Regions from separate parts of the Homo sapiens genome. Here region 1 is linked to region 2. Evidence: fine-mapped expression QTL. A gene starts in region 2. The other region holds a variant in brackets. All regions are shown on one strand. Distances are between the middles of the regions. Region 1 holds the start of MIR4472-1 (microRNA 4472-1). Region 2 holds the start of LY6S-AS1 (LY6S antisense RNA 1).

Region 1 (4,375 bases), 860 kb after region 2:
GGCCGGGTCTGTATCTCCCAGTGAGGCCCTCAGGTAGCCAGTGCCAGTGTTCCCAGGGACCCAGGGACATGTGTTGAATGCCCGTCCCCCGGCCCCACTCCAGGCCTTCCATGCCCAGGACAAAGCACGGGGGCCCAGCTCACAATGAAGGATCCTGGGATTCTTGAGAGCTGAGGTGGTGGGTGCTCCTGATTCCGGGGGAAGGTTCTGGTTCCTGCAGCTTTGACAAACCCCAGGGCCAGGCCTCACCCCCAAGCCACAGAGGCAGCCCCTCTGGGAGCAAGTCCGGGGCCGGAGGCTCGGGGGTCACCTCGTGCTTTTCCATCGCAGCTTGGGCTCGGGGCCGTGGGCCTGTGGCCTGGCTGGTGAGCTGCGGCCAACCCCCAGGCCTGCCCCAAGTGGAGTGTGGACCCACAGAGGAGCCTCCCCAGGCTTCTGTCTCCTCCTCAAGACCCAGGCCTGGCCCCTAGCAGGAGGCAAAGGCAGAGACCCCTCCCTCCCCTGGTGTCTGGCAAGGTCTCGTACCTTCCCCGGGTTGCTGATCCCGGGGAATGCTCCTGCTTCTGGCGACACTTGTTGCCTTGTCTTACACAGAACCCCAAACCCAAAGACGCCCATGAGAGACACAAGCTCATTGCCATGGTGGGTTGTGGTGGGTTGAGGCAGGAGGCGTCGCTGGCACCAGCTGTGTGCTGCTGGCTGAGGCCTCACCGGGATCTGCTTCAGTACCCGAAGCTTCACCCTCAGACACACCTCTTGGTGAGGACAGCTCCTGAAGGCCCCCATGGCATGCGGGTCCCACATAGAACAGGTGGCCGCCCGTCTGCAGGAGGCCTGTGCAGGGTTTTCTCTACCTGGCCCAGTGGAGTTGCTTCCAGAGCAACTCAGCACCTCAGAGCTGCTCATCCTGCTTTAACAAGTGGGGAAACTGAGGCTTGGGAGTGAGAATTGCCCCAAGGCCTCACGGCTGGCAAGTGGCAGAGCTGGGGTGGGATCATCCCACCCTTGGACATGAAGTCTGGTTCTTTCCTCTGTAAAGGGGTGCAGTGTCAACTGCTGTCTGCATGGAAGTAGAGTCTGGATGCAATGGCCGCGGGGCTGGGGGGGACTCAGGTGAGGGGATACACTGGCTGGTGGGGGGGTGCCCAGGTGAGGGGATGCACTGGCTGGTGGTGGGGTGCCCAGGTGAGGAGATGCACTGGCCACAGTGGGACTCAGGTGAGGGGATGAACTGGCTGGTGCTGGGGGGTACTCAGATGAAGGGATGCACTGGCCCGGCCAGCTCAGGGCCCTCAGGTGAGCGGCCGCCCAGGCCTTCACACTTTGGGAGTGGCTGTTCCTTGGCCAAGGGGAATTCTCCTATTGAATCAGCCGTGAGTGCTCCTGTAGAATTGCGGACCCTGTGAGAGAATGTTTTTATCCAGAACAAATTGAGAGGCTCCCCACCACGTGCCTTTCCAGTCACTTCTCCCATTTCAGCCTCAGTTTCCCTCCCTGTAAAACGGGGCTGTTGGAAGGACGAGGGAGACCTGGGCCCGGAGCGGTGGTCGTGGTGGCTGCCCACGCTGTCTTCTCTGCGTGCACCTCCTCTCTGGAGGCCAGGCCCAGGGTCCTGCCTTCCTCCTCCTCCTTCCTCCTCCAACAGGGAGACTCCGCAGCGCCAGGCCGTGCCTCCTCCCAGGAGTTTCGTTCTTGTTCACTGT[G/C]GTACAAATGTCAGGGAAGAATTTAAATGAGGGAAACCGTCTCAGAGAGTGTGTTCTGGCAGGATTTCAGGACACTTGTAATTAAGGGTGCAGCGAGGAGGGACCGACCCCACAGCGAAGGGAGGGCTGGCGCCGGCAGGCGGGGCCCTCAGCTGCCTCTGCTTCCTCTCGGTGCCACCGTGACCCCAGCCTCCGGTCTGCGGCTGAGCTGCCCCTCTGAGCTCTGGAGCGGAAGTGGGGGTCTGATGGAGGGGGCTGGCCACGCAGTCCCCTCAGACCCTGCCCATCACTTGCCCCTCCCTGACCCCTCCAGACCCCCCTTGGGGTCTCTCTAGGCAGCCCTGCTAGAGGGGCCCACCTGTGCGCAGCCTTTGGCCATGGCCTCTGCTTGGCGGACCTGAATTCTGGAGCCCCTCCCACCCTGCTCCGGAGCGGTCGCCAGCGCCCCGGGCCCCTGTCCCTCCAGTGACAGCGGCTGTCTCTTCAGGGTCAGAGGGTCGGGCCCCCTACCTGCAGCAGCCTGTTCTCCCCAGGCCCAGGGGCAGCCTTGGAGGGGCATGGAGACCCAGCTCCGGAAACCCTGGGGGCCGGGAATGGGAAGGGGCAGGCCGGGAAAGGGATGTGGACATCTATTTAGCGCTTACTGCATGCTGCCCTGTGTTTGGCACGCATCGTCTCATTAATCCCTCAGTCTTGGGCGTGGCTCCTAGTCAACCCATCTTACAGGGGAGAAAATGGAGGCCCAGAGGGGCTTCAGGTACTGGTCCAAGGACACTCAGAGGCTGGGCAGGGTGGAAGGTCACTGACTGAATGCCTACTGTGTGCAAGGTTCTTCTGCTCTGGTTCATCGTTGGAGTCTGGCTCTGTCCCGGGGCTCAGGTGTGGAGCTTGCGGTCTTCCTCCAGCTCGTTCAGGGGCTGTGGTGAGTTTTGTGGTTTGGGGGTGGCTGGATGCTAGCCTCAATCTCGAGGGGCTCATGGTCTAGAGTGGATGACCGGCTGCCATAACACCCTGTGGGGATAGAAGTCAGGGAGGAGCCCAGGGTTCTAGGGTGTTCGTGGAGCAGAGAAGAGGGCCCGGCAGGCTGCCTGGAGGAGGTGAGCTCTGAGCAGAGTCCTGGAAGACCACAGGGACTGTGGGTAGAATGTTTATGGGTGTGCAGGGAGTGGGGAAAAGGACGGGGGCAGGGAGCCCGTGTTGGGGCCTGACCAGGGCTCCACCGCAGCAATTATGAGCAGCCGGGATTGGAATTCTGGACGGTCGCCTTCCAAAATCCCCCAGGTGCCGCAGCCCCACCTTCCAAAGAAGGAAATGAGAATCCGAGAAGGGCCGGGATTTGTCCAGATCAGGGACAGATCTGACCCGAGTTAAGATCTGAGTTGAGGCTCAAGGCTCTCCCTTGTGAAAATTAAATGAGATTTAAACCAACTCAGCCTTAAAAAAACAAAAACAACACCCCCCACCCTGCCCCTGAGCTGTCTTCAGCCCCATTAGGGAGAGTGAGAGAGCAAGGGTCTGCCAGTGAGGAGATGGGGCTCCGTGAATGTAATTAATCACTTTTCAATTAGTATTCAGGAGCTTTTGTCTGAGGACTTGAAGCAGGTTAGTTCCAGATTGCAGCGCCAGGGTTTTCGGATGCATTTTTATAAATGTTGTGAGCCGAAATAGAACGCTGGGAGCTGAGCAGGCAGCCCCAACCAAAGGGAACAGAAATGAAGCCCCACAATGAGAGAAGTGATTGGGAACGGGGGCGTCTCGCCTGACACTCTGCAAATTCCTGAGCCGCAGTGCAGGAAGGGCTGGGCCTGCAGCCTGGGAAGACTCTGGGATTCAGTCGGTGCTCCATAAACGCTCCTGGAGTGCTGAATGCTCCCCACAGGGAGATGGGTAGGGTATTCTTGGCGGCTCTCAGGGAAGGTTTGGGATTTCGGAAAGGCTGTTCTGAGGGTGCGGGAGCTGGTGGTCCCTGGCTGTCAACCACGTGCCAGGAACTGTGTGGGGTGATATTGACCACATCTCTTAAATCTCCAAGGATGGAGGGTCCCGTGAGTACCAGAGACGCAGGCACTGCTATCCCATTTCACAGATGGCAGGCTCAGGGTCCGGCGCCCTTCAGGGAGGGAGAGTTGATCCTCGGTGAGAAAGAGCATCCGGTGAGTGCCAGGCAGTGGGTCTGGCTGGAGGACAAGTGCCTGCCGGGAATCGGGGGCCACACACGTTCCACTCTATCCAGCTGGCTGTGAGATCCTGGGGACCTCCCCTGGCCTCTCTGGGCCTGGGCCTGTAACATGGGAGTAGCTAGGGGCCCCTGGAAGCACCAGAGCCAGAGCAGGTGCAGGGATCACCCATAGCCTCGCCCTGCAGAGCGAGCTCCCTGTGTCCAGGCATCCCTGCAGGTGCTGGGTGGCACTCTGCTGCCCGAGAGGACAGAAGCACTGCTTGGGTGGCACTCTGCTGTTGGAGGGGACAGAAGCACTGCCCAGGTGGCACTCTGGGCCAGGTCATGTCAAGAATCCCTCTCTGTCCTGAGACTCAGCTTCTCCAGGCATGATGCAAAAGGACAAACAAATAAGATGCACCCTCCACCCTGACCCCTGCGGATGGTTTCTCCACCCGTAGCCACCCCAGCTCCCCCTAGCCAGGTGGTCTGTCTGATACCACAGGGCCCCAGC
Region 2 (4,375 bases):
GGACGGCTATTGTCAGGGACCCCAAACAGAGGGACCGGCTGAAGCCATGGAAGAAGAACATAAATTGTGAAGATTTCATGGACATTTATTAGTTCCCCAAATTAATACTTTTATAATTTCTTATGCCTGTCTTTACTGCAATCTCTGAACATAAATTGTGAAGATTTCATGGACACTTATCACTTCCCCAATCAATACCCTTGTGATTTCCTATGCCTGTCTTTAATCTTTTAATCCCATCATCTTCGTAAGCTGAGGAGGATGTATATTGCCTCAGGACCCTGTGATGATTGTGTTAACTGCACAAATTGTTTGCAGAGCATGTGTGTTTGAACAATATGAAATCTGGGTACCTTGAAAAAAGAACAGGGTAACAGCAACGTTCAGGGAACAAGAGAGATCACCTTAAACTCTGGTTGCCTGTGAGCCAGGTGAAACAGAGCCATATTTCTCTTCTTTCAAAAGCAAATAGGAGAAATATCGCTGAATTCTTTTTCTCAGCAAGGAACATCCCTGAGAAAGAGAATGTATCCCTAAGGGGAGGCCTCTGAAATGTCTGCTTTGGGGACGGCTGCCTTTTACAGTTGTAGATAAGGGATGAAATAAGCCCCAGTCTCCCGCAGTGCTCCCAGGCTTATTAGGATGAGGAAATTCCCGCCTAATAAATTTTGGTCAGACTGGTTGTCTGCTCTCAAACCCTGTCTCCTGATAAGATGTTATCAATGACAATGTGTGCCCAAAACTTCATTAGCAATTTTAATTTCGCCCCGGTCCCGTGGTCCTGTGATCTCGCCCTGCCTCCGTTTGCCTTGTGATATCTTATTACCTTGTGAAGCATGTGATCTCTGTGACCCACATCCTATTTGTACACTCCCTCCCCTTCTGAAAATCACTAATAAAAATTTGCTGGTTTTACGGCTCAGGGGGCATCACGGAACCTGCCGACATGTGATGTCTCCCCCGGACGCCCAGCTTTGAAATTTCTCTCTTTTGTACTCTGTCCCTTTATTTCTCAGACTGGCCGACACTTAGGGAAAATAGAAAAGAACCTACATGAAATATCGGGGGTGAATTTCCCCCGATAGATGACCATCTCAGCCTGGGGTCAGGGCAGGGCTCAGAATGGTCTGGGTGGACGGCCGTCTCAGCCTGGAGTCAGGGCAGGGCTCAAGGTCTGGGTGAATGGCCATCTCAGCCTGGAGTCAGGGCTGGGCTCAGACGACCAGCAGTCTTTGACCTGCCATGCCGGGAGCCACATCTCGTGACCAGGTCCTGGCCTTCCACGCTGGCCAGACGCCTGCATCCAAGACGTCCTGGTCCCTCTGACTGCACAGTGTGACAGCCACCACCCAGCCATGCCCTGTACTCCTGGATGTGATTTGCTAATTAGGGTCAATGGGGTAAGATGCCCAATTAAATATGAATTTCAGATAAACAATTTTTAGCATAAGTATGTCCCAAACATTGGTAAAAATGACTATTTGTTGTTTATCTGAGATTCAGATCAAACTGGGCATCTTGGACATTTTATTTGCTCAACTAGAAATTCATGAGTGCCTAAGGAGCTCAAGGGACATTCCAGACCCCCCAAATCTGTGTCGGACACAGGGGCAGTCACAATGGGGTGCAGTGGTTGTACCTGGTGACTCAGGACATTCGTCTACCTCCTCATGTCCCCCCTGCCTCTAGCACCACAGTGTCATGCCCTACCCTCCAGGGGGCCCAGAAAGCAGTGCTTTTGCCCAGGGCCATTGTCCCCTAGATAGAGGGTTCAGCCCAAGGAGGGCAGCCCTGATTCCCAAGCCTCCTGCAGCACTGACTCTCCACTGCAGCAGGCCTGGGGTTTCTGGCCATGGCTCGCCTTTGGCTCACCTCTCCAGAAGGTCTCTGGAAGCTTCTTCCCCACAGGGTCCTCCCTTCCACTGTAACCTTCCCTGGTTCTGGGAAACAAACTTGAGAGGCCCAGGCGCACCCCACCTCTTCTCTTTAGGTCTCCACAGCTTTTCCTCTGCCTCGTCCCCAAGGGGATCACTCTGGCCTTTCCCCTCTCCAGTGACCCTCTCCACACCCTCCCGGCTTCCCCCTTCCTCTGAGCACCCCAGATGCCAAAGGACAAGGTGAGGGAGCCTTTGGAGAAATGTTGCCTGACGTCACTGGTCCCCCACGCTCGGGGGACCCACACGGCCCGCCCTGCAGGCAGCCCCCTCCCCGCAGGCAGCCCCCTCCCCGCAGGCCGCCCCCTCCCCACCTCACCTCACAGCTGCAGGGGTCGGGGCTCGGAAGTGCTGGGGGCAGTTCAGGTTGAAGGCTGGGCAGCGTGCACTTCTCCCCCAGCCTCCTGGGGCCCGGGCATCACCGGAAGCGGAGTTTGTTCCCACTTTGTATCAGTCGCAAAGAAAGAGCACCCAATTGGACAAAAGGCAAGCAGGCTGCGTTCCTGGCCCGGAGTGGAGAAGAGTGAGCCCCTGCCCTGTCAGGGAAGCTGAGGCTGGGGGTTGTGAGGAGTCCCGTGCCGGGAGGAGGCTGCAGGAGCGCCTCAATGCACCTCTTGATACCACGCATGCTTAGCAAGGCCTGGGGACTGTCCTCTCGGGCAGGACTTCCGCCTTGTAATGACATGTCGCTGATTTAAAGGGAACTGGGGGTCACCAGCTCTGGTTTGTGCAAGTCTGGTGCGTTCTTATCTCCCTTGTATTTGGCAGGGGATCCTAAACCTCTCCTGGTATGTTGAGACATCTGGAGCTCATTAAGCCTCGGCGCCTGTAGATAAAGAGATTAAAGGAAAAAAGAAAAGAAATCCCGCCCTGGGGCAGCTGGGGTAGGATTAGCCTGGAGGCCACGCCTCTGCAGGGTCTCCCATAGGCTGGGCCAGCCTCTGCCCTCCCTGCTTCCAGAACCCCGGACGCTGATGGCCTGTGGCGGCCACTCTCCGCCCACCCCGGAGCCCAGCCTAGCGGGGAGAAGGCCGCCGGCCCGTTCGAATGTCCCTCTGCTTCCAGGGTCAGCCTGCACGCCACTCTCACAGAGGCCAGACGGGCGGTGGGGCGGGGACTCAGTTCATCCTCTGCCTGAGGAGCAGGTCTCGGGTGCGACTGAGCTTTTCACCCTTTGAGAGGAGTCAGGGACACGCAGCGTCTCCAGCAAGCTGGTGGCAGAAACTGATGGAGCATCCTAATCACAAAATAGGAAGAGAGTTTGCAAAATAGGAGCATTTACCAGAAGCCTCTCTCTCTCCCTCCCTCCCTCCCTCCCTCTCTCTCTCTCTCCCTCTCTCTCTCTCTCTCTCTCTCTCTCTCTCTCTCTCTCTCTCTCTCTCTCTCTCTCTCTCTCTCTCTCTCTCTCTCTCCCTCCCTCCCTCTCTCCCTCTCTCTCTCCCTCCCTCCCTCTCTCTCTCCCTCCCTCCCTCTCTCCCTCCCTCCCTCTCTCTCTCTCTGTGTGTCTCTCAAGTAGAAGTGGGGTCTCTATGTTGCCCAGGCTGCTCTCGAACTCCGAGGCTCAAGCGATCCTCCTGCCTCAGCCTCCCAAAGTGCTGCGATTACAGGTGTGAACTACTGGGCCCAGCCCCAGGCCCTCTTACAGGAGTGGGCTGCCTAGAAACATTCCAGTGCCATATCCCACTCCACTCCGGGTGCAGGGACAGGACCCCTGCCACCCCCAACCCAGGCCCAAAAGGAGGGGCCAGGAGGGGAGGGGCCACCAAGGCAGGTGAGCTGCTTAAGAGGAGCGAGGGCTGTGGACAGTCCTGCGGACTGCAGGAGGGGCCAGCAGGATCAATATCCAGCTTCTCTCTCCTGCTGGGCTCCTGCTGGGGCTCCCTGTTGGTCACCCCAAAACCTACTGTCTCTCATCGCTGCCGGGGCTGGCCAGGCTCAGCTGCTGGTTCTGCCTTGGGGCACCTCCTAGGTGGAGTCAGGGTGGCTGAAGGCTTCCCCACTCATGCGTCCACTGTCTGGACATCCTGCCCCTGCCCGACCTCCAGGAGTTGCAGTGTGTGAAGGCCACACCACAGCCCCTCTCTGCTGCCTCCCTCATGTCTCCTCCAGAATGATGCTCTTAACCCCCTCATTAGAGGCCCCCATCCTTCCCAACTGTACCTCTTGACACCCTGAGTACAGTTCAAGAGACCCTGAAGAAACTCAGAAAAGTGACAACTGGAGGCTCTGGGAGAGAAGAGTGAAGTCACTCACATTTGTTTTTATTTACTTATTTTTTTTTTAGAGATGAGGTCTTGCTTTGTTGGCCAAGCTGGTCTCTTGAACTCCTGGCCTCAAATGATCCTCCCATCTTGGTCTCCCAAAGTGTTGAGATTACAGGTGTGAGCCATTCTCTCCGGCTTACTCTGCGTTTTACAGGATGGGATGTGTTGATGAAAGAA

The links. PIP is the estimated chance that this variant, and not a neighbour inherited with it, causes the effect. A credible set is the group of variants that fine-mapping cannot tell apart.
Region 1: its variant is the best candidate, but not a certain one, in a credible set for the expression of LY6S-AS1 in naive CD8 T cells (Schmiedel 2018, PIP 0.58).

Annotation. Positions count from the first base shown.
Region 1 is chr8:142,175,188-142,179,562 of GRCh38, reverse strand. It overlaps MIR4472-1 (microRNA 4472-1), which reads right to left and starts at 3,224; the gene lies at 3,145-3,224. The variant G/C (reference allele first, on the strand shown) is at 1,704.
Region 2 is chr8:143,037,448-143,041,822 of GRCh38, reverse strand. LY6S-AS1 (LY6S antisense RNA 1) reads right to left here and starts at 2,614. Exons shown (of 6, transcript NR_149322.1): 1 at 2,254-2,614. It overlaps LY6S (lymphocyte antigen 6 family member S), which reads left to right. Exons shown (of 4, transcript NM_001406478.1): 4 at 1-984. RefSeq lists enhancers at 1-369, 2,391-2,942.